Homo sapiens: one gene and its partners. The protein of the gene in region 5 purifies or fractionates together with the protein of the main gene of each other region. This does not show direct contact. Each region holds a gene or a part of one and is shown on either strand. Other genes may lie near its edges. The genes, in order: WRAP53, DRC8, TTC38, AHR, IQCN, APAF1 and ANGEL1.

The links.
Region 1: the proteins of IQCN (region 5) and WRAP53 purify together in Homo sapiens (affinity purification with mass spectrometry; 2 studies listed by BioGRID and IntAct, with this or other methods). This does not show direct contact.
Region 2: the proteins of IQCN (region 5) and DRC8 purify together in Homo sapiens (affinity purification with mass spectrometry; 2 studies listed by BioGRID and IntAct, with this or other methods). This does not show direct contact.
Region 3: the proteins of IQCN (region 5) and TTC38 purify together in Homo sapiens (affinity purification with mass spectrometry; 2 studies listed by BioGRID and IntAct, with this or other methods). This does not show direct contact.
Region 4: the proteins of IQCN (region 5) and AHR purify together in Homo sapiens (affinity purification with mass spectrometry; 2 studies listed by BioGRID and IntAct, with this or other methods). This does not show direct contact.
Region 6: the proteins of IQCN (region 5) and APAF1 purify together in Homo sapiens (affinity purification with mass spectrometry; 2 studies listed by BioGRID and IntAct, with this or other methods). This does not show direct contact.
Region 7: the proteins of IQCN (region 5) and ANGEL1 purify together in Homo sapiens (affinity purification with mass spectrometry; 2 studies listed by BioGRID and IntAct, with this or other methods). This does not show direct contact.

The regions. Positions count from the first base shown.
Region 1 is NC_000017.11:7,697,778-7,701,239, reverse strand, and holds part of WRAP53 (telomerase Cajal body protein 1), read right to left. Parts: intron 500-3,462; coding exon 411-499; intron 1-410. UniProt on the Homo sapiens protein: RNA chaperone that plays a key role in telomere maintenance and RNA localization to Cajal bodies. Specifically recognizes and binds the Cajal body box (CAB box) present in both small Cajal body RNAs (scaRNAs) and telomerase RNA template component (TERC).
Region 2 is NC_000001.11:245,080,771-245,084,969, reverse strand, and holds part of DRC8 (dynein regulatory complex protein 8), read right to left. Parts: intron 2,888-4,199; coding exon 2,808-2,887; exon of another isoform or gene 2,805-2,807; intron 1,529-2,804; coding exon 1,486-1,528; intron 1,349-1,485; coding exon 1,282-1,348; intron 1,031-1,281; coding exon of another isoform or gene 1,002-1,030; exon of another isoform or gene 1-1,001. UniProt on the Homo sapiens protein: Component of the nexin-dynein regulatory complex (N-DRC), a key regulator of ciliary/flagellar motility which maintains the alignment and integrity of the distal axoneme and regulates microtubule sliding in motile axonemes.
Region 3 is NC_000022.11:46,266,162-46,271,000, reverse strand, and holds the start of TTC38 (tetratricopeptide repeat protein 38), read right to left. Parts: upstream 2,994-4,839; 5' UTR 2,962-2,993; coding exon 2,929-2,961; intron 2,488-2,928; coding exon 2,410-2,487; intron 1,860-2,409; exon of another isoform or gene 1,712-1,859; intron 1-1,711.
Region 4 is NC_000007.14:17,332,840-17,337,038, reverse strand, and holds part of AHR (aryl hydrocarbon receptor), read right to left. Parts: intron 3,128-4,199; coding exon 2,925-3,127; intron 2,153-2,924; coding exon 2,043-2,152; intron 1,395-2,042; coding exon 1,253-1,394; intron 1-1,252. UniProt on the Homo sapiens protein: Ligand-activated transcription factor that enables cells to adapt to changing conditions by sensing compounds from the environment, diet, microbiome and cellular metabolism, and which plays important roles in development, immunity and cancer.
Region 5 is NC_000019.10:18,267,290-18,271,488, forward strand, and holds part of IQCN (IQ domain-containing protein N), read right to left. Parts: intron 2,303-4,199; exon of another isoform or gene 2,299-2,302; 5' UTR 2,190-2,298; coding exon 2,177-2,189; intron 277-2,176; exon of another isoform or gene 238-276; coding exon 1-237. UniProt on the Homo sapiens protein: Essential for spermiogenesis and fertilization. May be required for manchette assembly in elongating spermatids.
Region 6 is NC_000012.12:98,651,410-98,655,608, reverse strand, and holds part of APAF1 (apoptotic protease-activating factor 1), read right to left. Parts: intron 1-4,199. UniProt on the Homo sapiens protein: Oligomeric Apaf-1 mediates the cytochrome c-dependent autocatalytic activation of pro-caspase-9 (Apaf-3), leading to the activation of caspase-3 and apoptosis. This activation requires ATP. Isoform 6 is less effective in inducing apoptosis.
Region 7 is NC_000014.9:76,788,553-76,792,751, forward strand, and holds part of ANGEL1 (protein angel homolog 1), read right to left. Parts: intron 2,815-4,199; coding exon 2,745-2,814; intron 2,223-2,744; coding exon 2,059-2,222; intron 837-2,058; coding exon 676-836; 3' UTR 1-675.

The DNA of each region.
Region 1 (3,462 bases), on a different chromosome or scaffold from region 5:
CCAAGCACTTCAGGAGGCCAAGGCAGGTGGATCACCTGAGGTCAGTTCGAGACCAGCCTGGCCAACGTGGTGAAACCCCATCTCTATGAAAAATACACAATTAGCTGGGTGTGGTGGTGCACACCTGTAATCCCAGCTACTCAGGAGGCTGAGGCAGGAGAATCACTTCAACCTGGGAGGCGGAGGTTGCAGTGAGCTGAGACTGCATCACCGCCCTCCAGCCTGGGTGACAGAGGGAGACTCAATCTAAAAAAAAAAAAAGGAAGGGGAGGAAGCCAACTGACCAGCCCCTCTGATAAGCATGCCAAGCCTTCCTCCTCCAAAGACCCCTGGCAGCCCTTGACTCTCCCAAGAGGCCCTGCTTGAAACTGGGTGGTGGGGCGGCGAGCAGGGAGGCAAACATTACTTACTAGGAGGTGTCTGGCTGGGCTGAGGACATCAGAGAATACCAGCAGTAATCATAGATGGTATCACCTTCCACCATTCGAAGGACAGGGACCTATACAGAGACGGGGGAATGGCTGAGTCACTCGGAGGGAAAAGGAGTCTGAGGCGCGTGCCTCTAGCAGTGTTGTGGCAGATGGGGTGTATATATGGAGCACAGACTCTGTCTCAATGTTCAAGGGTGAGCTCAGACTTTAATGTCAAATTTAGCCACCAAAAGCCATATAGATTCATACTTTTTTTTTTTTATTATTTTGAGACAGAGCATGCACCACCATGCCTGGCTAATTTTGTTTTTGTTTTTTTTTTTAATAGAGACAGGGTTTCACCATGATGTTGGCCAGGCTGGTCTCAAACTTCTGACCTCAGGTGATCCACCCGCCTCAGCCTCCAAAAGTGCTGGGATTACAGGTGTGAGCCACCGTGCCGGGCCTTATACTTTTTCTTTATAAACACTTAGAGAGGAAGAAACAAATAATAATACCTCAACCCAGAGACAAAGAACCAACCAATTATTCAAATACTTACTGAGTACATGCTAGGTGCCATTTGATCCTTTAAAAAAATATTAGTACAAAAATTTGCCAGGCGTGGTGGTGGACACCTGTAATCCCAGATACTCAGGAGGCTGAGGCAGGAGAATCCCTTGAACCCAGGAGACAAAGGTTGCAGTGAGCTGAGATCGCACCACTGCACTCCACCCTAGGTGACAGAGAGACAGTGCCCCCCAAAAAAAAAAGAAAAAGAAAAGAAAAAAATTATCGGCTGAGCACAGTGGCTCACACCTGTAATCCCAGCACTTAGGGAGGCTGAGGCAGGCAGATCACTTGAGCCCAGGAGTTCAAGACCAGCCTGGGCAATATGGTGAAACACTGTCTCTACAAGAAAAAAAAATTAGCTGGGCATGGTAGTGCATGCCTGTAGTCCCAGCTACTAGGGAGGCTGAGGCATGAGAATTGCTTGAGCCCAGGAGATAGAGACCACAGTGAGCTGAGATCATTGCCACTGCACTCCAGCCTGGGCAACAGAAACACTGTCTCAAAAATACAAAAATGGAAACAAAAAAACCTCCTTACAAAAATAAAGAAAAAAAATTAAACAGTTCAAACATACAAAGTATCTTATTAAAAAAACAGCCCTGTGACCCCTCCATCCAGCTGAACAAAAAGATATGTTTAAACCCCTTTCCTAACAGAAACTCTCCCTCAGAGGTAAACACTATCTTGAATTTATCACTGTCATACATTTCCTTAGGAATATATATATATATATAAATATATATATATATATATAAATATATATATATATATATATATATAAATATATATATATATATAAATATATATATATATATAAATTTTTTTTTTTTAATTTTAAAGGCAGAGTCTCACTCTGTCACCCAGGCTGAGTGCAGTGGCACGATCTCAGTTCACTGCAACCTCCACCTCCCAGGTTCAAGCAATTCTTGTGTCTCAGCCTCCCGAGTAGCTGGGATTGCAGGAGTTCACCTCCATGCTCAGCTAATTTTTTGTATTTTTAGTATAGACAGGGTTTCGCCACGTTGGCCAGGCTGGTCTCGAACTCTTGGCCTCAAGTGATCTTTCTGCCTCAGCCTCCCAAAGTGCTGGGATTACAGGTGTGAGCCACTGCGCCCAGCCTAGGAGTATATTCATATGGGAAAAAAAACAGTATCTAACGTTGTCTTGCAGGTCTTTAGACTTAATTTTTTCTTTTCTTAGAGACAGGGTCTTACTCTGTTGCCTAGGCTGGAGCACAGTGGCGCAATCATCTCACTGAAACCTCAAACTCCTGGGCTCAAGCAAACAATCCCCTGGCCTCAGCCTCCCTAGTAACTGGGAATATAAGCATAAGCCACCATACCTGGCTTATTTATTTATTTATTTATTTATTTATTTATTTTTGACGGAGTCTCGCTCTGTCGCCCAGGCTGGAATGCAGTGGCACAATCTTGGCTCACTGCAACCTCTGCCTCCCAGACTCAAGCAATTCTCTGCCTCAGCCTCCTGAGTAGCTACGATTACAGGCGCCTGCTATCACGCCCGGCTAATTTTTTTGTATTTTTAGTAGAGACGGGGTTTCACCATCTTGGCCAGGCTGGTCTTGAACTCCTGACCTCGTGATCCACCCACCTCAGTCTCCCAAGTGCTGGGATTACAGGCATGAGACACCACGCCCAGCCTGCCCGGCTAATCTTTAAAATTATTTTTTTGTAGAAACAGGGGTCTGTGTTGCTCACGCTGGTCTAAAACTCCTGGCCTCAAGCAATCCAGCCACCTCAGCCTTTCAATGCACTGGGATTACAAGCATGAGCCACCATGCCCGGCCTAGACTTAACAGTAATGGTATTATATCATATACATCCCTCTGTGATAGCAAGCTTTAACCATGGAAACACATTTTGCTCTAATTCATGCATTTTCACTGGTGTATAGTACTCTACTCATGAATATATTCAAACTGATCTACCCTTCTTCTATTTAGAATCACTGATGTTTTTCTGTTTTTTGGCTAGTGTGCTTTAACATTCTGTACACATGTAGAAGGGTTTCTCTACAGTTTCTGCTGAAGAGTAAAATTACTGGTCTCTACGCTATGCACTTTGCAAACTTTGTAAGATACTATAATGTCAATTTCTTTCCCAAAGCACTTGTCCCAATGTCCTCTCCCACCAGCAGTGTATAAGAGTCTCTATTCTAGCCTGGGCAATATAGCAAGACCCCAGTTTTACAAAAAATTAAAAAATTAGTCAGGCATATTGGCATACTTGTAGTCCCACCTGTTTGGGAGAGTGAGGCAGGAGGACTGCTTGACCCCAGGAGTTTGAGGCTACAGTGTGCCATGTTCGCACCACTGCACTCCAGCCTGGGCAACAGAACAAGATCCTGTCTCCAAAAAAAAAAAAAAGTGTCTATTGTTCTTTATCTTCTTGGTATTGCCAGACTTTTACATTTTTCTCAATTTGAAGGTGGTGAAATGGTATTTCATTACAGCATAAAT
Region 2 (4,199 bases), on a different chromosome or scaffold from region 5:
GAAGCTGATGCTTTGAAAGTCGTAACATCCCCATCAGAATTAATCCCGAAGGTAATTTTAACAATGGCGTCAGAGTTCTTGGGTGGCAGCTGTGACGGCCTTGCCATTCTGACCCTCACTCTCTGTATTCCGCCTTAAGGTGGATGAAGCTGGAATGGTCAAACCAGTTGTGCGTGTAGATGCAGTCTTAGTCTTCCCTACTCAAAATCACTTGCGCTTTTCATTCTGCCTCAAGTGATTAGCAACTCTGAGTCATTCAGGACCCAGTCTGTGAACCAGAGAGCTCTAGCTTTGTATGGGAGAAGGCAAGGGGACCAATATGAGGATGGTTTCAGGAGACTGTCCATCAGGCTACTGACCTTCAGTGTAAACAAATTTACACATCAGCCTAGCAGAGAGAATTCCTAAAGGAAATATGTTGGCATATATATATAAGTGTGCAGGTTTTATGTGTGTGTATGCATATATGTATGATGGGCCATGTTCAAAACAAATATATATGGTTCAATTAACATTAAAAAAGGACATTTTTAGTGTTAAAAATGACCTCAGTATTCAATTGAGGCTACATTATCTGTAACTTCACTGACAGAAAAGCTCTTTAAAAGGGAATTTTTACCAGCACTGTGGGAAGCCAAGATGGGTGGATCACCTGAGGTCAGAAGTTCGAGACCAGCCTGGCCAACATGGTGAAACCCATCTCTACTAAAAATACAAAAAATTAGCTGGGCGCAGTGGCCTGTGCCTGTAATCCCAGCTACTCGGGAGGCTGAGGCAGGAGAATCACTTGAACCCAGGAGGCGGAGGTTGCAGTGAGCTAAGATCGCGCCACTGCACTCCAGCCTGGGTGACAGAGCAAGACCGGATCCGTCTCAAAAAAAAAAAAGCCGGGGCGCCGGGGGGGGGGCGGAATTTTTATATTCTTTATTCAAATCTTCAATCTAGGAAGAGGCCTTCATTTACAGTGATCGATAGTTCATGTTTTCCAGATGGCATATCTTTTATTCTGGAAATGCTCTGAATGCAATGCCTGAAATTATAGAAGTAATCACTGTGCTTCACAAAATTCTACGAGACAACAACCCATCTCCCCTTTCCCTACTCTTTGTCCTCTTAACCCCCACAGAACAGAAACCATCCCCAAGCCAAAATAGCAGGAACAGTAAATAACTTTCACCAGAATGACTGATTTTAAAGTATCCCCTATAACTTTCGCATAACTGTTAACAAATTATTAATTCCTCACATAAGTCATTGTGATAAGTAATAAATCACACTTACCTTCTTCAGTCATATACTTGATCAGCTCGTCCTTAGTAAGAAACCCACGTTTAGCTGAATCTAAAACCTAGGGGAAAAGAAAAGATAGATATTATATTTTTCATTTGGTGAATAAGTTCTACATGATAAATTTTTCATATATGTGTGTATGTAAATAAATGTATTTATATATATGTATATGCATATAAGCTGGAGTTTACATACCTCAAAAGCTCGAAGAAGGACATCTTCTGGAATTGGTCTGTATCTATAATTATGCAATAAAATGAGTAAATGCCGTGGTATTTACCGCAGTCTTTACATAATAAATCAGCAGTCTCCAACCCTTTTGGCACCAGGGACCAGTTTCATGGAAGACAATTCTTCCACAGACCAGGGGAGGGGAGGGATGGTTTGGGGATGAAACTGCTCCACCTCAGATCATCAGGCATTAGATTCTCATAAGGAGCATGCAACTTAGATCCCTAACACGCACAGTTCACAATAGGGTTCGCATTCCTATGATAATCTAATGCCAATGCTTCTCAGACAGGAGGCGGAGTTCGGGCAGTAATGCTCACTCTCTTGCTGCTCACCTCCTGCTGTGTGGCCCAGGGGTCCTAACAGGCCAGGGACTGGCACCAGTACCTGGCCTGGTGGTTGGGGATCCCCGTAATAAATGACCACATAAAACAAAATAGGGCTGGGTATGGTGGCTCATGCCTGTAATCCCAGCACTTTGGGAGGCTGAGGTGGGCAGATCATCTGAGGTCAGGAGTTCGAGACCAGCCTGGCCAACATAGTGAAACTCTGTCTCTACTAAAAATACAAAAATTAGCCAGGCATGGTGGCATGCACGTGCCTGTAATCCCAGCTACTCGGGAGGCTGAGGCAGGAGAATTGCTTGAACCCAGGAGGTGGAGGTTGCAGTGAGCCAAGATGGTGCCACTGCATTCCAGCCTGGGTGACAAAAGCGAAAGTCCATCTCAAAAATAAAATAAAATAAAATAAAATAAAATAAAAGCTGCTAACATACTGGGATGATAATACTTGCCTCATTGAAATCTTTTTGGATTTCTGGATATGAAAGTTGAAAATACCTCAGCCCCACAGGAAATATTTAGTGCAAAATCACTGACATGTTTGAGGTTATCTATTAGCTTTTTGGACATCAATTTATCTGGGCACAAGACTTCTATGATGAACCAACTATGGTAAGCTAATGCTATATTTTTGCTAGAAAAATATTAGGATTCTTATTTATCATTGATAATTCAAAACAGAAGATACTAAGAATGTTGATTTACGATCTTTATAGCTTATTTACCCTCTAATTATGCTTTGCTTAGGATAACACTAGTGTGGTTGATATTTCTAAGCAGGTACCAACTGCCAGTTCAGAAGTAGCTTGAAAGGTTAGAGGGAGGCCACCTTAGGACACACTGCTTGAGTATAACACACAAAGTGAAAAAGCCAAGCGTCCTGAAATGAATGGATTCATAATTCTGACCATTACTTTGCCTTAACAATTGCATTTACTTACTTACTTTCTTTCTAGTAGTATTTCTGTCATCACCGGAAGAAATTTTTCGAATCGAATGTATCCAGTGGGTTCTTCTTCCTCTACCTAAACATTCAATAAGTAAATAGCCATTTAGTCATTCAACAAATGTATTCAGCAACTAGTTGTTCCAAGCACTGTGCCAAGTGCTAGAGACTCTGGATGGTGAGCACACTTGGGCGTGACCCCTGCTCACAGAGATGGTCCTTTACTTTATCTTTTTAAGATTTACCTTCATCATTCAACTGGAGCACAGCTGATACTCTGATCAGGGAGACAGACATTAATCAAGAAACAGCAACCAAAGACACTGTGAACTGATGTAAGTACAGTGAGGGGAAGGAGCATGGGTCTGTAAGAACAGCCAATAAAGAACACTCGGCCGGGCGTGGTGGCTCACGCCTGTAATCCCAGCACTTGAGGAGGCCAAGGCAGGCAGATTACTTGAGGTCAGGAGTTCAAGATCAGCTTGGCCAACATGGTGAAACCCCGTCTCTACTAAAAATACAAAAATTATATGGGCGTAGTGGCGCACACCTGTAATCCAAGCTACACGGGAGGCTGAAGCAGGAGAACCACTTGAACCCGGGAGATGGAGGTTGCAGTGAGCCGAGATCGCACCACTGTACTCCAGTATGGGCAACAGAGCGAGACTCCATCTCAATAAAAAAATAAAAAATAAAAAAATTGCCGGGTGCGATGGCTCACGCCTGTAATCCCAGAACTTTGGGAGGCCGAGGTGGGTGGATCACGAGGTCAGCAGATGGAGACCATCCTGGCTAACACGGTGAAACCCTGTCTCTACTAAAACTACAAAAAATTAGCCAGGCATGGTGGTGGGCGCCTGTAGTCCCAGCTACTCAGGAGGCTGAGGCAGGAGAATCACGTGAACCCAGGAGGCAGAGCTTGCAGTGAGCCGAGATCAGGCCACTGCATTCCAGCCTGCGTGACAGAGCGAGACTCCGTCTCAAAAAATATATATATATAGATAAATAAAAAAATAAAAAATAAATAAAATAATAAAATAAAATAAAAATAAAAAAATAAAGAACACTTCTTAGACCAGGAGACCAGGGAAGTCATCCATGAGGAAATAACACTCCAGCTGATTTAGAGAGTATGAGTAGAAGGTAATGAGACAGAGACAGCAGGGGAGAGACAGTCACCTAGAGGAAACTGAATACGCGAAGACTCTCTGCTGACACATTGGCGGCTAGGAGGCTGGAGTACAAGGAGCAGGGAGAAGGCTTCAAGATGAGGCTAGAAAGAGAGACAGGGGCCCGACGGCAGGGCCTTCTTGTCCATGACAGTGATAAGGTTGCTAGCCTGAGAACAATGGGAAATCAGTGACGGTCTCATAGATGCATGTTTTGGAAGA
Region 3 (4,839 bases), on a different chromosome or scaffold from region 5:
TTGCCCTGTCACCCAGGCTGGAGTGCAATGGCACGATCTTGGCTCACTGCAACCTCTGCCTCCAGGTTTCAAGCAATTCTCCTGCCTTGGTAGGAGAATCCCTCCTTAGTAGCTGGGATTACAGGTGTGCACCACTGCGCCCGGCTAATTTTTTTTTTTTCTTTTTTGAGATGGAGTCTTGCCCTGTCACCCAGGCTGGAAGGCAGTGGCACTATCTCAGCTCACTACAACCTCCACCTCCCTGGTTCAAGAATTCCTCTGCCTCAGCCTCCCGAGTAGCTGGGATTACAGGCCCATGCCACCATGCCCGGCTAATTTTTTTATATTTTTAGTAGAGACAGGGTTTCACCATGTTGGCCAGGCTGGTGTTGAACTCCTGACCTCAGATGATCCACCTGCCTCAGCCTCCCAAAGTGCTGGGATTACAGGCGTGAGTCACCGCGCCCAGCGCATCATCATTTTTAACAATTTGCTGTATTTGTACCTGGTCCTTTACTCAAATGCCTGTTTTAAAAAAAGTCCTAGACCTATAATCACACATTAGATTTTAAAATATGCCCTTTCAGCTGTCTAACCTACATCTACACAGAATTAGTACGTGTATTTTTTTTTTAAGACAGGGTTTGCTCTGTTGCCCAGGATGGAGTACAGTGGCACAATCACAGCTCACTTCAGTCTCAACCGCCCAGGCTCAAGCAATCCCCCTGCCTCAGCCTCCCAAATAGCTGAGACTATAAGCTACGCAAGCATTTTGACAAGATACAGGAGGGTTGGCACAGAGATTTAAAGAAGCCAAGTTCTAACACAGGACAGCACAGAGACACCAATACACGGGACAAAATATACCCAGGCTGGGAGGATGAGCTGCCACTGATTGGGGATGTGGTGTGTAACAAACTGAGTACTAGGGGCCGGGCACAGTGGCTCACGCCTGTAATCCCAGCACTTTGAGAGGCCAAGGCAGGGGAATCACAAGGTCAGGAGTTTGTGACCATCCTGACCAACATGGTGAAACCCCGTCTCTACTAAAGATACAAAAAATCAGCTGGGTATGATGGTGCGTGCCTATAATCCCAGCTACTTCGGAGGCTGAGGCAGGGCAATCGCTTGAACCCGAGAGGCAGAGTTTGCAGTGAGTCAAGACTGCGCCATTGCACTCCAGCCTGGGTGACAGGGCAAGACTCCGTCTCAAACAAAAAACAAATCGAGTACTCTACAGAGGCCGGCGAGATACAGGAAGGGCAAGTGAGCCAGGTCAAACACAAAATAAACAAACAACTCAGATGCCCACAGCAGAGTCCCTTGGCAGGGCAGGCTGGGAACAGGAGAGGCACCCATGGCGCAGCTCACAGCATTCCATCAGTCCTCTCTTGTTCAGCCCGTAGGCTTCTAAGAGCTACCTGAGTCCTCCTGTTATGTGGATGAAGTCAGTATGCAGGGGCCTCACCACCCACGCCAAGGTCAGCTTAGGTTTCTATCAGTGCAGTTAGGCCCAGGTTCATCCTGGTTCTGCCTGTAATTCATGGACAACCTTCAAGTCAAGTAGGTTCAACTCTGAGCCTCAGTTTCCCCACTTGTCAAGGAAGCTAGTTGGATCTTACTTCTGAGACTTCTCCTAGTTCTAAAACTATAGGACCCTTCATTGGTAGAGAAATGACTGGTAATGTGGCAGAAGGTCTTGGCACAGCCTAGGTGAAGGCAGTATACTCACAGATTCATCCCAGGACAGGATCCCACGTCCTAAGCAGCCGAGCCCTGCATCAGACCCTCAGCAGGCCACAATGGGAGGCCCGGGGAGGCCAGCATCCTCAAAAAACATCCCCACTGCACCCACCGCTGTCCACCCACCACTCAGAGTCCTGGGGAAGAAGGGAGAGTGCAGAGGCCCTTTTAGGACGCTGTGGGGGGGGGGCAGAGATATGTCCCCACCCTCCCACGTCCTCCAGTACAAAGTGCACAGATGTGCTGCCATCTATTGCTAAGGTCATGGCGCAATTTAAAAAGCTTTCCCCATGGCCGGGCGCGGTGGCTCACGCCTGTAATCCCAGCACTTTGGGAGGCCGAGGCGGGCGGATCACGAGGTCAGGAGATCGAGACCATCCTGGCTAACACGGTGAAACCCCGTCTCTACTAAAAAATACAAAAAAAATTAGTCGAGGGCAGTGGCGGGCGCCTGTAGTCCCAGCTACTCGGGAGGCTGAGGGACGAGAATGGCGTGAACCCGGGAGGCAAAGCTTGCAGTGAGCCGAAATAGCGCCACTGCACTCCAGCCTGGGCGACAGAGCGAGACTCCGCCTCAAAAACAAAACAAAACAAAACAAAACAAAACAAAAAAACAGCTTTCCCCAATTAAAAAACCTTCCCCTAGACCTCCACAGAAGGGGCCGCGGCCTCTCTCGGCAGGCATACCTGGGTCAGCGTGGCATCGAACAGCTTGCAGGCTTCGTTGCTTGTGGTGGAGAGCGGGAGCCTCGCATCCTTCCAGGCCTACAGACGGCAAGAAGGGAATAGCAGTGCCTTCTCTCCAGGAGCCCTTCAAACTTCAACACACACACGTCTCCTGGCCCCTCTGACCTCCACCTTCCTCATCTGTAAAATGGGCTCAGGCTCCCAGTCCTGGGCCGGTTCCAAGGAGCCCCTTACCTTTGCGGGCTTCCCTGCGTCCCCAGCCATGCCCAGTGAGCTACGTTTTTTAGGAGGTCTTGGGGTCTCCCGAGTACCCTGACAGGCGTCCCTTATTTCCCTCGGTGGGGACTCTACAAGAAGGGCCTCGGGTCCCTTCCAGGCGTTGCCGCGGACGCGCCCGTGCGCCCAGGGCTCACCCCACGCCCCGCGCCCGGGCCATGTCTCCCGTTATTCCGCCAGCACCGGGCCACCCCCAGGACCCGGGGCCCGAGGGGGACCTGGTTGGGGGCAGCCTCCGTGTACCTGGCAGTCGCGCAGAGGCGAGGCTGCGGCCATGTTGCGCCGGGTCGGAGTCCACCGCGAGCTCTGGGCACCCGGGCCTTCCTGGGAGTGGGCGGGGCGGTCGCGGAAAGGGGCGGGGCGGGGCGGCCGCGCTCTCCCGCTCGCTCACTGGTGGGTTTCGGACAGACTGGCCCTGGTCCAGGATCCGGGCCCGCCCCAGAGGCCCGACCGGACAACTCTGCAACGCGACGGGTCCCTTGGGAGCAGGGAGCTCCGGGACAGCGGTCACTTTCAAGTTTATGTCGTTGCGGTCGGCAGCTACCCGCGCGCGCACGGCACACACTCACTTGGCGTTCGGGGCCGGCTTCACTGGGTCGTCCCGCCGCCTCCATCCTCCCTTCTCAAGGATTTGCAGCGGAAAAATCGCTCTGTCTCCTGCAGTAGCGGCTTCTCCCTCTGGACTGGCCCGGTCTGGCCCGGCCTGAACTCTGCCATCAGCCACACACCAGCCCCAGTCCAATGGGCTCCCCTAGTTTAATTTGCCCCCGCCCCAGGGTGCACGAATCAAGGGCGTAGAACCAAGTGCACGGGCAGATCTGGCCTTTATTTAAAATGCTATTTTGTTCATCATGGACTTTTTGCATTAGTTTTGATTTTTGAAATATTGCACTGAAGTATTATTTGTTTTATGTGAGAGCTGTAAAGATAAAACTCTTAGAAGAAAACAGAAGTAAATCTTCATGGCCTTGGATTTAGCAATGGATTCTTAGATGTAACACCAAAAGGACAAGCAACAACAACAAAATAGATAAGTTGGACTTCGTCAAAATTAAAAACTTTTCTGAATCAAAGGACACTACTCAGGAAACTGAAAAGATTAACACAATGGGAAAAAACATTTGTAAATCATATATTGGGTAAGAGTCTAGAATCCAGAATACATAAAGAAATCTTGGCCGGGCACAGCAGCTCATGTCTGTAATCCCAGCCCTTTGGGAGGCTGAGTCAGGTGGATCACCTGAGGTCAGGAGTTCAAGACCAGCCTGGCCAACATGGTGAAACCTTATCTCTATTAAAAGTACAAAAATAGCCAGGCGTGGTGGTGCATGCCTGTAATCCCAACTACTTGGGTGGCTGAGGCAGGAGAATCGCTTGAACCCGGGAAGTGGAGGTTGGAGTAAGCCAAGATTGTGCCACTGCACTCCAACCTGGGCAACAGAGCCAGACTCTGTCTCAAAAAAAAAGAATTCTTACAACTCAACAGCGAAATGACAAACAGCCCAAATTTAAAGTGGGCAAAGAATTTGAGGTGACAGTTCTCCAAAGAAGACACACCTTTCCTACAGCGTTTTCAAGGTTCATTCATACTGAAGGAAGAGGCAGACACAAAAGGTAACACTTGTATTAGTGCATTTACATGCATGTCCAGAATACGCAAACATAGAGACAGAAAGAAGATTGGTGGTGACCAGGGACTGAGGGGATAGGGATGATAAGTCACTGAAGCCTTGAACTCCTGGCTCCAGCAATCCTCCCACCTCAGCCTCCCATAAATGGTTACTTTTATGTGAACTTTACCTCAATAAAAGAGAATTTGTCTTGATTATTGAGTTTTTGGTGCCCCTCCACCCTTAAATTTTGCACTTGAGCTGAGTACTAATATGGACTAATACAGTAAATTGGTACCATTAGAGTGGGGTGTTGCCAAAAATATACCTGAAAATGTGGAAGCAACTTTGGAACTGGGTAACAGGCAGAGGTTGGAACAGTTTGGAGGGCTCAGAAGACAGGAGTATGTGGGAAATTTTGGAACTTCCCAGATACTTGTTGAATGGCTTTGCCCAAAATGCTGATAGTGATATGGACAATAAGGTACAGGCTGAGGTGGTCTCAGATGGGGATGAGGAACTGGAGCAAAGGTGATGCTTGTTA
Region 4 (4,199 bases), on a different chromosome or scaffold from region 5:
GCAAAAGATGAGGGTTGTAATGCTGTACTTAAAGGGAAACTGATATATATGTTTAAGTATATATTTTTTAAAAGTTGCAAAAAATGATAAATTATACCCAAAGAAAGTAGAAGGAAGAAAATAATAATGAGCAGACATAATTAAAATTGAAAACAAATGTATAAAATAGAAAAAAATCAATAAACCAAAAGTTGGATCCTAATAAAGACTAATAAAATCTAATTAAAAAAAGTGCCTTCTAGAAACATTGATCAAGGGAGAAGTGACAAATTTGTAGAGGTACACACATACCCATGCACTCATATACATATGGTACACACATACTCATGTACTTCCATGGGTACTTATACACATACATACATTCATCATGTTCATGGGCTCAAAGATTCAGTATTAAAAAGATGTTAATTCTCCCCAAATGATCTACAGTTTCAAGGTAATTGCACTCAAAATCTCAACAGATTTTCAGACAACTGCTTTCTAAAATGTATATGGAATTATAGAGGGCAAAGAAGAACCAAGGCAATCTTGAAGGAGAACAAAAAAGGCAAAACAAACAAAATGACACACTCTGACATAGAAATATATAATAAAGATAGAATAACTAAGACAGTGTAATGCTAGACAAAATAGACAACTGCACTAATGGAGCTATTAATAGAACAACACAATCCAGACAGAGAACCACAGACAAAATCCCCTGATCAAAATACAGCGCAGCCGGGAAACAATGACCTTCTCGGTAAATCATCTTTTCAATGTTACTGGTCAATTGGGTATACGTATAATGGCTGGGGGGAATCAATCCTTACCTCAAGCTACAGACAAAAATCAATTCTCCAGAGTGGGAGGAAACATTTGCAATACAAATATTTGATAAAGGACTCATCTGCAGCATGTGTAAGAAACTCTTAAAATCACTGCTGGGTTTAGAGAATATATTCTAAATAAAGCATTGTTATATTTTTCTTCTTTTTTACCAATGACACTAGCTTTTCATGTGTCTTTCATATGCCCAAGATAAAACCCTAGAGTTTTATTATTCTTTCTATAGCTCTGCACATGTAGCTCTCAATCAAGTTCGTCAATTCTATCTTCTCAATGTCTCTCACCTGTGCTCTTCTTTCTAGATGAATTAAACTTTTCAATTTTTATTTACAGACTAAAGTCTGCTTGAATTATTTTTATGCTTTCACATAAGAGGACTTATGAAAACAAAACTGTTAAAACAGGAAACATTATTTGTGCTTACGTTAGTGGTCTCTGAGTTACAATGATATAATCTGGTCTTCCATTTTTATAAAGCAGGCGTGCATTAGACTGGACCCAAGTCCATCGGTTGTTTTTTGTAAGAAGCCGGAAAACTATCATGCCACTTTCTCCAGTCTTAATCACTAAAATAAAATTAAAAAATTAAATTATCAAACCCCCAAATCAATATAGTAAAGATTATTCCTAAAACAAAGCTCTTGTGACATAGTTCTGGATGTATTTCCTTTATCCCCAAAGACAATAAATTTTAAACAAAAAATAATAAAAGGCATGGAAATAGTTTTTCAGAGTTGTTTTAAATTTATTATTTTAAATGTTAAAGGGAAGATTATGTACCAAACAATTCTAGTAACACAGGAAAGTATAGAGAGAACATAAGTTGGGGAAAAAATTATTTTCATTTTAAATAGGGAATATTTTCCTACAGCCTAATACTTTATAATTTTAAACTAGAATTATTAACACTATTATTGTTACAATATTAACATAGATTTATGAATTGATAACGATGTAATTAAAAAATTCCCAAGCAAAACTTCATGGGCCAAAATGGTCATTTTTTAATAACTAAACAACAATATTTCTACATGGCAGGTGTAGACAAGTTAATGAACAAAGAGTGTAACCCTGGTTAATCATAATGATATGTTACTAAGTAGAAGTTTATCCATATACTTTACTTAAACACTTTACATTACGTAAGAATTTGAAACATGTACAACAGTATATGCCGTTTTCTTCTGACATGTTCATAAGGAACTACAACTTACTTCGGATATGGGACTCGGCACAATAAAGCATATCAGCTGCATGAATAAACTGATAACCTGAGCCTCTCGTGCACAGCTCTGCTTCAGTATATCCTAAAACAATTCTTCCTCTGTTTAAAATAAAAAAAGGTAAAATAAGAATGGATTAAGATTTAACATAAATGAAATAACCAAGATAAATTCATTGGTTTTACGCTAGTTTCTGCAATATGTTTTAGTTCACATTTAGAATTTCACATAAGTAGATGTGAAATTAAACACATCCATGTAAACTGATCTTCTTTGCTTATGATTGCAAATTTCAGTTTCAGCCTATTTTCTTTTCCTGAATAAATCCATGGAAATTAGTATGCTAAAAATGAATCTAATAGAGCAGATGTATGGGTAACAGAACATCTTTAATAAAAATCTGGAATGTTTTTATAATCTATTTTTAGGGAAGAAGGTTTTTCTAATTACCTCTCTGCATTCCCACATTAGAAAGGAGAAAAGCACTGATATGTTTGATATGATATAAATGTTTAATATCAGACTCCTGCTCACAATTTTCTGAAAGTTACTAAAACTTCTGGGGCTAGAAATCAAATAACATTTGTGCCATTTAAAAATGTAAAACAAACCAACATAAATGTCATCAGAAGAATAAACCTTACTAATATATAAGAACATCATCATTTGAGACAAGTATTGCAAAAATTAAAAAGATGATTTGTGAGCCTGATTAAATTATTTTACTGTAAAAGGCTACACTGGAAGAATGTACGATAATAGCCAATCTAATAATAAACAATATTACATACACTGTATGTTTTACATGCTAAGAGAGACTTACTGAAACATAATGTACATCCAATAAAATAAAAGTGAAAAAGTCTCACTTACTTGGCATCACAACCAATAGGTGTGAAGTCTAGTTTGTGTTTGGTTCTAAAGATAAAATTTTTGGTCCGGATTTCAAGTATGGATGGTGGCTGAAGTGGAGTAGCTATCGCAAACAAAGCCAACTGAGGTGGAAGTATTGATCCATCTTTCCCTTTCTTTTTCTGTCCATGAAGATACTTTAACTTCCCTTGGAAATTCATTGCCTTAAAAAAGCAACAACAACAAAAAAGTTCATTAAAATTAACAATATAAAATAGTGCCTTTTTAAAAGGCTCCATTATGGCTGCCTCTAGGGTTCTTGATAATTCCATAAATATTCCTGAAGCTGAGAACTGTTAGTTTCCTTCACTCCTCTCTCCATGGGACGCCCATTAAATCTATCTCAAAGAGTAATATGAAAAATATTCTAAAGGGATAAGTGAACCACTCCTTGTTCCTAATGGTCATAACATGAAAACCTATATCATTTTCCAAGCTTGCCATTACCCTATCATTTTCACCTCACACAGCTCCTTGCACACCAGGCAATCAATATATCCTGAATGGTGATAAAGTCCTAAAGTAAACATTCATTTTCAAGCATACATGAACTATATCACAGCTCATAGCATACTGCATAGTTCATAATCTTTTCTATAGAGGCAAAATATAATTTTATTAAGACACTAAAATGAATCATCATGAAAACATATAAAGAATGCAGAGCCCTACTGAGTAAAGATATGGAAGAAATTTAGAAGACAGGGAAAACAAAGGCACTTAAACATGAACATGATATATTTAATTGCTTAAAACAATATCAACCAGTCCAAGGGATGGTTCTGACATCAAAATAATAGCAGCACAAGGAGGAAAAGGCCCTCCTGCACACAGATATTCCACCTCAGACATACACTCACATGTCATTTAACAAAAGGGGCATGTTCTGTGAAATGTGTCCTTAGGCAATTTCATTATCCTGTGAACATCAGAGGGTAGGTTCACAAACCTAGATGGTATAGCTTACTACGCATCTAAGCTATACAGTATAGCCTTTTGTTCCTAGGCTACAAACCTGTACAGCATGCTATCGTACTGAATACTTAAAGCAATTGTAACATGATGGTAAGTATTTGTGTATCTAAACATAGAAAATATACAGTAAAAATACAGTATAAAAGACAAAAAATGGTATACCTGTATAAGAGCACTTATTGTAAACAAGGTAGGCAGGACTGAAAGTTGCTTTGGTTTAGTCAGTGAGTGAGTGGTGAGTGAATGTGAAGGCCTGAGACA
Region 5 (4,199 bases):
CCCGGAGGCGTGGGACGCGGCGGGACGCCGTCTTGCCTTCGGCAGGCTGTTGCGGAAGATGCTCCTTGGACTTGAGGCCCTCGTGCTGGGGCTGTGGAGGCGCTTTCTCCATTTTGTCCAGGAGACTGGGGTGAGCGGGGGCTGGAGGATGCACCGCCCACTGGGTGACAACTGGCTCGTGAACTGTAGCTAGGCGGCCGGCTGCATTGCCTTGATTACCGGACAGGTCAGCTCTGCCTGTGGGGGCGGCAGGGGGTGGTCAGGGTGTAGCAGGTCCTGCAAACAAGAGGTCTCCTGGCTGGGGTGGACACTGGCCCCCCAGGCCCAGATCTTGTTCCTGGCACGTTGCGATCTTCCGCCTCCCTTTTTCCATCCCTCCCTCTCCCAAGTGGTCTTTGCCATCCTTATATCCACCTCTCATCACCCTACGGCCACTTCATCTTGGCACACAGTGTATGACACCTGAATGCCCGACCACTTACCTGCTTTTCTTTTTTCTTTTCTTTTTTTTTTTTTTTTTGAGACAGAGTTTTGCTCTTGTTGCCCAGGCTGGAGTGCAATGCTGTGATCTTGGCTCACCACAACCTCCGCCTCCTGGGTTCAAGCGATTCTCCTGCCTCAGCCTCCCGAGTAGCTGGGATTACAGGTGCACGCCACCATGCCTGGCTGGCTACTTTTCTGTATTTTTAGTAAAGACGGGGTTTCACCATGTTGGCCAGGCTGGTCTCGAACTCCCGACCTCGGGTGATCCACCTGACTCAGCCTCCCAAAGTGCTGGGATTACAGGTGTGAGCCACCGCGCCCGGCCTGCTTTTCAAACTTTATCTTGGATGTACCCTGGGTTTAGCACTGATCACAATGTTTTGGAAATTTCCTGTTTGCCTCTGTGTGTGTGTGTGTGTGTGTGTGTGTGTGTGTGTGTGTGTGTTTGAAAAAGAGAGAGAGAGAAGTGTGGTGGGGGAGATTATTTGCCTCTCCCCATTGATTGTGAATCCTAGAAGACAGAGTCATTTCTGTGTCCCCATCTCAGTCATAGAGCTTGGTTCCAAGCTGTGAATGGGTAGGTATTGGGTGGGGGGGGCATCTTGACTGATAAATGGTGAGTGGATTGGAAGTTGGATGGACAGATAGATACAGGACTAGATACTGAATGGATGAATCAGTCGATGAGTGAATGGTAGATGGGTTGGAAAGACAGATGAAGGTTTGGATGAATAGGTAAATAAAGCTGATGAATAAAGTGTTAAAGGCAAATTGGCCCGGCACGGTGGCTCATGTCTGTCATTCCAGCACTTTGGGAGGCCAAGGTGGGCAGATTGCTTGGGGTCAGGAGTTCGAGGCCAGCCGGGCCAACATGGTGAAACCCGTCTCTACTAAAAATACAGAAAAGTAGGCCAGGCACAGTGGCTCATGCCTGTAATCCCAGCACTTTGGGAGGCCGAGGTGAGCGGATCACAAGGTCAGGAGTTTGAGACCAGCCTGGCTAACGTGGTGAAACCCCATCTCTACTGAAAATACAAAAATTAGCTCGGCATGGTGGCTCGTGCCTGTAATCCCAGCTACTCAGGAGGCTGAGGCAGGAGAATTGTTTGAACCCGGTAGGCAGAGGTTGCAGTAAGCCGAGATCGCGCCACCTCACTCCAGCCTGGGTGACAGAGCAAGACTCTGTCTCAAAAAAAAAAAAAAAAAAAAGAGCCAGGTATGGTGGCATGAGCCTGTAGTCCCAGCTAGTCGGGAGGCTGAGGCAGGAGCATTGCTTGAACCCGGGAGGAGGAGGTTGCAGTGAGCCAAGATCACGCCATCACACTCCAGCCTGGGCAACAGAAGTGAAACTCCGTGTCAAATAAAAGGAAAGAAGGAAGGAAGCAAGGGAGGGAGGGAAATTAAAGAGAGCTGGAAAGACTGGTGAAGAGATAACCCAACAGGAGGTAGACTGATGGGTGGATGGGTGGGTGGGTGGATTAGGGGATGGGTAGGTAAATGGCATATGGAAGGATGGAAAGAAGGAAGAAAAAGTGGTGACTGTGGCTTTCAGAAGTAACTAGGATGCAGAGAGAGCTGGGACACTGTCAAGCCACCCTGATGCATAGCCTGGAGCACAGCACACTTGTTTGGCAGAAGCCCCTCTCTTCAGGTTGGACTAGCCAGACCCCTTGCCCATAGACCATCTTCTTACCTTGAAGGGTCATAGATTTGGAGGAGTAGCAGGAGAAGAAGGTGCAATCTCAGAAGCCAGCCTGCAAGAGGAGGCAGCCTTCAGCCTTTCATCCATGCAATATGCAGCAACACTGCCCTGGGCTGGCTCAAGACCAACACAAAAAGAAATGTTAAAAGCAAAAATGCTAAATTCTAAAATTTCTAAATTCTAAAAAAGCTAAATTCTAAAAAAAAAAAAAAATGTGCAAAGATGAGGAAATTTATTCCAGTGTTATTTTGTAGCTAGAAATCAAACAAAACAACTGGAAATAACCAAAACAGTGATTGGTAGAGGTTCTGCTACAAATGAATACAGAAGTATGTTCAAGGATGTTTAACACTGTATTGTTTAGCAGAGGAAAAACTGGAAGAAACCAAAATTATCAATGGAGACAGGCTTAAATTAATCATACAAGGGCATGATATCCAGGCATCAGAAATGGCGTCCAGGCTGAGCACAGTGGTTCTTGCCTGCAATCCCAGCACTTTGGGAGGCCAAGATGGGAGGATCACTTGAGGACAGAAGTTTGAGACCAGCCTGGGAAACTAAGCAAGAACTGTCTCTTAAAAAAAAAAAAAAAAAAAAAAAAAAATTGGCCAGGCGTGGCTCACGCCTGTAATTCCAGCACTCTGGGAGGCCGAGGAGGGTGGATCACCTGAGGTCAGGAGTTCGAGACCAGCCTGGCCAACATGGTAAAACCCCGTCTCTACTAAAAATACAAGAAATTAGCCAGGCATAGTGGTTGACGCCTGTAATTCCAGCTACTCAGGAGGCTGAGGCAGGAGAATATCTTGAACCTGGGAGGCAGAGATTTCAGTGAGCTGAGATCGTGCCATTGTACTCCATCTGGGGCAACAAGAGCAAAACTGTCTCAAAAAAAAAAAAAAAATAGGCCGGGCACAGTGGCTCACGTCTGTAACCCCAGCAATTTGGAAGGCCAAGGTGGGTGGGTCACTTGAGGCCAGGAGTTCCAGACCAGCCTGGGCAACATGGTAAAACCCGTCTCTACTAAAAACATAAAAATTAGCCAGTCATGGTGACATGCACCTGTAGTCCCAGCTACTCGGGAGGCTGAGACAGGAGGATCATTTGAGGCCAGGAGGTTGAGACTGCAGTAAGCTACGATGGCACCACTGCACTCGAGCCTGAGCGACAGAATGAGACCCTATCTCTTTTTTGTTTTTAAAACAGAGTCCCACCCTTTTGCCCAGGCTGGAGTGCAGCGTCACAATCTCGGCTCACTGCAACCTCTGCTTCCCAGGTTCAAGTGATTCTTGTGCCTCAGTCTCCCAAGTAGCTGGGATGACAAGTGTAAGCCACGGTGCCTGGCTGAGACCCTGTCTCAAAAAAAAAAAAAAAAAGATTGTGATTAAAGAGTAAGTATAAGATAAAAGGTAACCTGGGAGGCCAGGCATGGTGGCTCACACCTGTCATCCCAGCACTTCGGGAGGCCAAGGCAGGTGGATCACAAGGTCAGGAGTTCGAGAACAGCCTGGCCAACATGGTGAAACCCCGTCTCTACTAAAAATACAAAACTTAGCCAGGCACAGTGGCATGCACCTGTAATCCCAGCTACTTCAGAGGCTGAAGCAGGAGAATCACTTGAACCCGAGAGATGGAGATTGCAGTGAGCCGAGATCACGCAACTGCACTCCAGCCTGGGCGACAGAGTGAGACTCTGTCTCAAAAAAAAAAAAAAAAAACCAGGCGCAGTGGCTCACGCCTGTAATCCCAGTGCTTTGGGAGGCCGAGGTGGGTGGCTCACGTGAGGTCAGGAGTTCAAGACCAGCCTGGCCAACATGGTGAAACTCTGTCTCTACTAAAAATACAAAAATTAGCCAGGTATGATGGCAGGTGCCTGTAATCCCAGCTACTTAGGAGGCTGAGGCGGGAGAATCTCTTGAACCCAGTAGGCAAAGGTTGCAGTGAGCTGAGATCATACCATTGCACACCAGCCTGGGTGACTGAGCGAAACTCAGTTCAAAAAAAAAAAAAAAAGATA
Region 6 (4,199 bases), on a different chromosome or scaffold from region 5:
GAATTTAGGAGAAAGCAAAAAGGAACAAGTAAGGAGAACTTTTATTTCTTTTTCTTTTTAAATGAAAATACTACGGCCGCCCCTACTGGGAAGTGAGGAGCCCCTCTGCCCGGCCAGCCGCCCCGTCCGGGAGGGAGGTGGGGGGGTCAGCCCCCTGCCCGGCCGGCCGCCCCGTCCGGGAGGTGAGGGGCGCCTCTGCCCGGCCGCCCCTACTGGGAAGTGAGGAGCCCCTCTGCCCGGCCACCACCCCGTCTGGGAGGTGTGCCCAACAGCTCATTGAGAACGGGCCAGGATGACAATGGCGGCTTTATGGAATAGAAAGGCGGGAAAGGTGGGGAAAAGATTGAGAAATCGGATGGTTGCCGTGTCTGTGTAGAAAGAAGTAGACATGGGAGACTTTTCATTTTGTTCTGCACTAAGAAAAATTCTTCTGCCTTGGGATCCTGTTGATCTGTGACCTTACCCCCAACCCTGTGCTCTCTGAAACATGTGCTGTGTCCACTCAGGGTTAAATGGATTAAGGGCGGTGCAAGATGTGCTTTGTTAAACAGATGCTTGAAGGCAGCATGCTCGTTAAGAGTCATCACCAATCCCTGATCTCAAGTAATCAGGGACACAAACACTGCGGAAGGCCGCAGGGTCCTCTGCCTAGGAAAACCAGAGACCTTTGTTCACTTGTTTATCTGCTGACCTTCCCTCCACTATTGTCCCATGACCCTGCCAAATCCCCCTCTGTGAGAAACACCCAAGAATTATCAATAAAAAAATAAATTAAAAAAAAAAAAAAAAAAAGAAAATACTACTTTAAAAATATTTAAACAAACAAAAACAGACAAATAAACTATCTGTTGCCTTAAGTTTCCATTTTTTTAAATTTGTACTACCTAAAATTTGTAAAAATCGGCCAGGCACAGCAGCTCACACCTGTAATCCCAGAACTTTGGGAGGCCGAGGCGAGGGGATCACTTGGGTCAGGTGTTCGAAACCAACCTGGCCAACATGGTGAAACCCCATCTCTACTAAAAATACAAAAATTAGCCGGGTGTGGTGGCACACACCTGTAGTCCCAGCTACTTGGGAGGCTGAGGCAGGGGGACTGTCAAGAGGCAGAGGTTGCAGTGAGCTGAGATCATTGCACCCCAGCCTGGGCATCAGAATGGGGCTCTGTCTCAAAATAAAATAAAATAAAATAAAATTTGTAAAAATCATCCCAAGATTAAAGGTAAAGAAAGCATCCTGATATGGCTACCTAGTAAATTCTTTCATATTTTAATTTATGTACCTATTACCTAGGGTCAAAGGCCTTTTTCCCTAAATGTATAACTAAAAATTTAGGGCATTTAAATACATGCAAGAAAAGAGAAAACACTACCAGCTTTAAAAAGGCAAACAGACCAAATGACCATCTGATATGTAAATCTCTAACCATCACAATATAACATTTAGTTAAAAACTGAACCATTAATTCCACATTTCAGAAAGAATCTAAACATCTTGACTATGGGCACAAGAGGGAGCAATTTAGCTTTGCATGAGGAGGCTGTATTTACAATTCACTCAGAGAAACTAATTCAGAGAAAAGTTGCCTTTATTCAGGGAAAACTCCACACTACTTTCACAGGAGGCTTATCCTGGTAGCAATTAATAATCTAATAACACAAAGAAATCTTGGAAAGGACAGAAACAAATAGGAACACAGCCTATGAAGAAAGCATCCATGATTAAAAACCAACATACGAATACAGTAATGTAAAATGTCACTACTGTATTTAAAGATACGTCAATTCTTTACTATTTCCCTACAAATAAGAAAAAATTAAAGCATTGAAATTTCAAAAGACAACTGGGTTACTTAAAACTGTATAGACATAAATAGTTAAAAACTATATATATATATATATATATATATATATATATTTTTTTTTTTTTTTTTTTTTTTTTTTTTTTTTTTTGAGACGGCATCTCACTCTGTCACCCAGGATGGAGAGCAGTGGTGCAATCTTGGCTCGCTGCAACCTCTGCCTCCCATGTTCAAGCGATTCTTATGCCTCAGCCACCTGGGTAGCTGGGATTACAGGCATGCGCCACCACGCCCAGCAAATTTTTGTATTTTTAGTAGAGACGGGGTTTCACCATGTTGGCCAGGCTGGTCTCAAACTCCTGACCTCAAATGATCTGTCCACCTCGGCCTCCCAGAGTGCTGGGATTACAGGCACGAGCCACCACACCCAGCTAAAAGTTAACAACTTAATATTCTTTAATTTATGCCAATCACCACCCAAAGAAAACATTTCCATAGGAACCACAATTTTAATCAAATTTAGATCTCTTATATTATCTGTACTTTTAAAAGAAAAGGTTTTGCAATACAATTAAATGTCAAAAATCCAATGTTCCTGTATTTGAGAATGGAAGTGAACTCCAGAGATTAAAATTTATCTTTGGGAAAGCACCTATTCTTGAATTAGTGGACATACAAAGGCAGACTCCAGAGAATAAAGAACTAAATATGAATAATAAGACTGTAATAGGACTACTTGAACAAAACTCAGGAAACACAAGTTAGAAGACAAAAAAAAAAACTGATTAGTTTGACTACATCAGAGTTCTCGTCTACTGAGAACACCCAGGAAAAAAATTAATCAGATGGCAAATTAAAATAAGGTATTTAAAAGTCTAAAACCAGCTGAGCACAGTGGCTCACGCCTGTAATACCAGCACTTTGGGAGGCGAGGCAGGGGGATCACCTGAGGTCGGGAGTTCGAGACCAGCCTGACCAACATGGAGAAACCCCGTCTCTACTAAAAATACAAAATTAGCCAGGCGTGGTGGTGGGTGCCTGTAATCCCAGCTACTCAGAAGGCTGAGGCAGGACAATCGCTTGAACCTGGGAAGCAGAGATTGTGGTGAGCCAAGATCGCGCCATGGCACTCCAGCCTGGGCAACAAGAGCGAAACTCCGTCTCAAAAAAAATAAAATAAAATAAAATAAAAGTCTAAAACCAACAAAGTTTAATGTCTAGAATATATAAGAAACTCCTAAAAAGCAAAAAGAAAAAAAAATTGGAAACCCCAATGGAAAATAGACAAATAATATAAACAAAATCCATAAAAAAAGAAACCCAAAAGGCTAACAACAAGCTTATGAAGAAATGTTCAAACTTGAGTTACCAGAGAAATGCAAAGTAAAAGACACAACTTTATAGAAGTTTGCCTGGCAAAAATTACAAAGCTGGATCATACCAACCGTCACTGCACAAGTAGAATTATCGGAGTCCCCATACTCATCTGGGGGAAATGTACAGACTGGAGGGGAATCAAATTTGGTATTTGTATATCCTATCATTTAGTAATTTTGGCTGGACATGGTGACTTTCATCTGTAACCCCAGCACTTTGGGAGGCCAAGGCGGGAGCATCACTTGAGCCCAGGAGTTTGAGACCAGCCTGGACAAGATAGCAAAAACCTGTCTCTACAAAAAAATGTTTAAAAACACACCAAGCATGGTGGCTTACACCTGCAATTCCAGCACTTTGGGAGGCCAAGGTGGGTGAATTGCTTGAGCTCAGGAGTTCGAGACCAACCTCGGTAACATGACAAAACCCCAACTCTACAAAAAATACAAAAATTAGCTGGGTGTGTCAGCATGCACCTGTGGTCCCAGCTACTCCGGAGGCTGAGGTGGGAAGATCACTTGAGCCCAGAAGGCAGAGGTTGCAGGGAGCCAAGATTGTGCCACTGCACTCCAGCCTGGGTGACAAAGCAAGACCCTGTTTCATAAATAAATAATTAGCCAGGCATGGTGGCGTGTGCACCCAGCTCCTCAGGAGGCTAAGGTGGGAGGATCACTTGAGCCTAAAAGTTTGAGGCTGCAGTGAGCTATGATATGGCCACTGCACTCAGCCTGGGCAACAGGGTGACACTCTGTCTCTTTAAAAAAAAACAAAAATAAATAAATAATTACTAATTTTGCTCCTAGCTACAAATACCCAAGAAATTCTTACTCACATAGAAGTTCAACCCAGCTTTGCTGCAGCAGCAGAGAGTTGGATACAATCTACATATCCATTTACTTAGGGTAATGAGCAGTAAAATGGGTTGGTGGCAATCAGGTGTAACAAATAACATGTATACATAGCAACAAGGATAAATCTTAAAAACATTGTGTCATGGGAGATAAAAAACAGAATAATACCATAA
Region 7 (4,199 bases), on a different chromosome or scaffold from region 5:
TCCCAGAGCCCAGACGCCGGGCCTGCCCTGGTTGGCAGGATGAATGCCTAATGAAACACAGAGGCTAAAAGGAGAGATGGGGCCATGCCCTGCTGCTGCCTGCTCATACATAGGTACTTGGGTAGACTCTGAACCTGCCCCAGGCCTACAGCCCCAACATGAAAAGTGGACTGGTCAGAGGCAGGCATGGCTGTGCAGAAGTCTCACCCCAAGAGGACACATACATGATATGCATATCTCACATATGCATGCCTGGCAAGAGGGCTGGGCCCAGAAGTCCTGAAGGCAGGGAAAAGGTCAGGTCAGAAGGTACATCAAGAAACGGCCTGAAAGCAAATAACCAATGAAATCAAGAACTCCCATAACCCTGGTAATTAAAAATCAAGGGGGAGCGCTGGATACATGGAAGGAAGGGGGAGCCCCCCTTCTGCCTCTCCCAGGGCCACTGAGTGTGTGGCACAGGATTAGGAAGAGGCTGGGGTGGGGCAAGGACCACAGGCAGAGAACGCAGCCAGGCCTGGAGAAAGTCTAACCGTGGGAAAAAGGGAACGAGGAGGGGGAAGGGAGGGGATGTAAGTTTCTTGGATCTAAGTTTCTAGATGCATGGGATTTTTCCACAGTCTCTGATCCAGTGAGCTCTTCTGGAAGAGAAGCTCTCTTCCCCTGGGAGCCCTGTCATGGGGCGGTGACTTCCATCCCGAAGCTGGCTAGCAGGCAGAGGTGGTCTGAAGAGCAGAAGGGGTTGGGTAAGCCATTGGCAGCCCAGAGTATCTCTTCAGAGAGAAGGGAGAGACGACCCAGGAGCTTGAGAGTTCCATCTCGATACAGCCTGTGATCTGGGGCACAAAGCAGAAGCCAATGGGTAAAAGCAGCCGCAGCCACACTGCATGGGCAGGCAGTGGCAGAGTCCTTTGGGAACGCCTTCTGCAGGCTGCATCCCCTTGGCTGCCCACTGCCCCTCACCTCCTCTTGCAGCATCTGGCTGAGGAGGCCCCATTTTCTCAGAGATACTCCATAATATCATCAACGAATAAAGACAGGTGAGTTCCGGGGAACTGGGGCAAGCTGGAGAGCCCACCATTATAAGATCTTTTGATTTTCCAAGAGAAGCTAGAGATCCAGCTTTTCTATATAAAATCTGATTTTTTTTTTTTTTTTTTTAGATGGAGTCTTACTTCGTTGTCCAGGCTGGAGTGCAGTGGCGCAATCTCAGCTCACTGCAACCTCTGACCCCCGGGTTCAAGCGATTCTCCTGCCTCAGCCTCCTGAGTAGCTGGGATTATAGGTACCCGCCACCATGCCTGGCTAATTTTTTTTTTTTTTTTTTTTAAGACGGAGTTTTACGCTTGTTGCCCAGGCTGGAGTGCAGTGGCACGATCTCGGCTCACTGTAACCTCTGCCTCCCGAGTTCAAGCGATTCTCCTGCCTCAGCCTCCCAAGCAGCTGGGATTACAGACACCGTCACCACACCCGGCTAATTTTTTGTATTTTTAGTAGAGACGGGGTTTCATCATGTGGCCAGGCTGGTCTCACTCCTAACCTCAAGTGATCTACCCACCTCGGCCTCCCAGAGTGCTGGGATTACCGGTGTGAACCAGTAATACACGTGCCTGGCCATAACAGTAATACACATGCCTGGCCAAAAAGAAACATTCTTTACACAATACAGGCATGGGGCTGGGAGATTGCTATACTGTGCCCACTGGTATGGGGAGAGGAGACAGAAAATAAGGTCTCTTACCTAACCAAGTCCCTCATTCAGTGGCTGTCATTAAACAAACTCAACCAATTCCTAGATCTCTATTTTTACCTCTAAAATGGGGATTGGGAGTGACTGTCCTACCCTCCTCTCTTTAATGCTGCAAGGGTAAAAAGAGACAAGGCAGGCAAGTGGCCTATGGGGAGAATGATAAGGATGACCAGTGCAAGGGAGGTATGAAATCTGCTCCTTTGCTGGTTAAATCCCAGCAGCTGAAGACATGCTACCAAATGCCTGACCTACCATTAGCTGTTCCCAGGGACCTGGGGGTGGAGGAACCCAGGATCCATCAGGCTTACCAGTTCTGTTCCCATTCTCACAGGACTCAGCTGAGAAGAAGATGTAATCTACTGTCATTCCAAGACCCAATGGCATTGTAGTGACCTCTGGGCGGCCACGCTGGGGCAGGAAGTGGGTATATACTGACGTCAGGTGGAGGCAGTGCTGGATGGTACCTACAGTCCTACAGGGATGAAGGGGGAAACATTAGTTAACAAAAATTACTAAATTTTCCCTAGATCACTTTTTCTATGGGTTTTATGAAGATTTTTTAAAAGGATGATCTCAGATGACTCAATCTCAGCCAATTCCTCCCCATGCTAAGAAGGGGCTGGCAGTCTTAGCTAAAATTAGCCTAGAAACACACATTTGTACTGAGACTCCCTAACACTCCTAATCCCCCACTATCTGCTTGTTACCTGGTAAAGTATCCCCAATGTACCCCTGTCTGGGGCCCAGGCCTCTTCTGTGAGGCTTTACCCTCTGAGGAAAGAGTACATAGCCTTTTCACCTGCAGTAACATGGGTGGGTCACCTCTGGCTTCTGCATACCTACATAACCCTCTATAAGTTTAGCAGATATTAGGGGAAAAAGAGCTTATCAAAAAGTGCTCCCCCAAGTCAACCTCAGGACAACCAATGGGAATCTCTCTCTTACACCTAGGCAAGGGCTGGATTGAAAACAGAAGAGAACTGGAGAAGGTTACCTGGAGAAGGCAGGCTCAAGCTCCGATGCATCTTCCTCAAGGACAGACTCAGCCCAACCCGCAGGTCGCTCTGCAGAGGACCAGAGAGAAAAACATTTTCTCATCCACAGACAGTGAAGCAGGATCAGAACCTTTCACCCTAAAATCCCTCTCAGATCCTTGACTGGATTGCTTCAGAAGGATCCAGAAGGAGAAAGGGAGAAACAGTGAGGAGGAGAAGATGACCATAAACCAAAGTCAAGAACCTCAGAAAGCAGATGTAGGGCATCTAACACAGACATTGTCTTCTGTGGCTCCTCACCTTTGTTTTTCTTTAATTTGATTAAAAAAAAATAAGTCATATAGTCACATGGTACAAAATCAAAATGTAGCAAAAAGTATCAGTGAAGTTTCCCTCTCACTTGTCCTCCTCTGCCACTCAATTCCCCTCTCCAGAAGCCACCAATGTTACCAAATTCCTGGTATATTCCTTCAAAGACTTTCTATTACATACCATCCATTGTGTGTGTCTATGCATGTATGCATACATGTATATATACATACATATTACATATATGTATACATCTATAAGCACACACACACATACATATCATACACACGAATGTTAAAAAAGGAAGATACAAATTACCAATATCAGGAAAGAAAGAAGGGACATTAGTACAGATCCTACCAACATTAACAGGATAATAAGGATCAGCAACAACAGTGACAAGCCCTTAGCTAGACCAAGAAAACAGAATACTCAAATTACTAAAATCAGAAATGAAAGAGGGGCCATCACCACCAACCATTTAGAAATAAAAAATAACTATAAGTGAATGCTATAAATAACTGGATACCAACAAATTGGATAACTTATATAAAATTGAAAAATTCCTAGAAAGACACAAACTATGCACAATAACTCAAGAAAAAACTGAAAATCTGAATAGGCCTATAATAAATAAAGAGATTGAATCTGTAATTTTAAAACATCCCACAAAGAAAACACCAGGCTCAATGGCTTCACTGGTGAATTCCAGCAAACATTTCAAGAGGAATTCATACAAATCCTTCACAAACACTTCCAAAAAAAAGAGGAGACACTTCTCAACTCATTCTATGAGGCATTACTCTGACATCAAAACTAGATAAAATGTCACAACAAAAACTATAGACCAATATCCCTTATGAATACAGATGCAAAATTCCTCAATAAAATATCAGCAAACCAAATCCAGCAAAATATAAAATTATATACTATGACCAAATAAGATTTATCCTAGGAATGTAAGCATGGTTTAACATCTGAAAAATCATATAATGTGATATGTCGCAATAGAATACTTAAGTTTAAAAAAAAGCCACATGATTATCTAAACAGACAGAAGAAAAACATTTGACACACTCCAACACCCTTTCATGAGTTAAAAACACTCAAAAAACTAGGAATAGAAGAAAACTTTCTCAATCTGA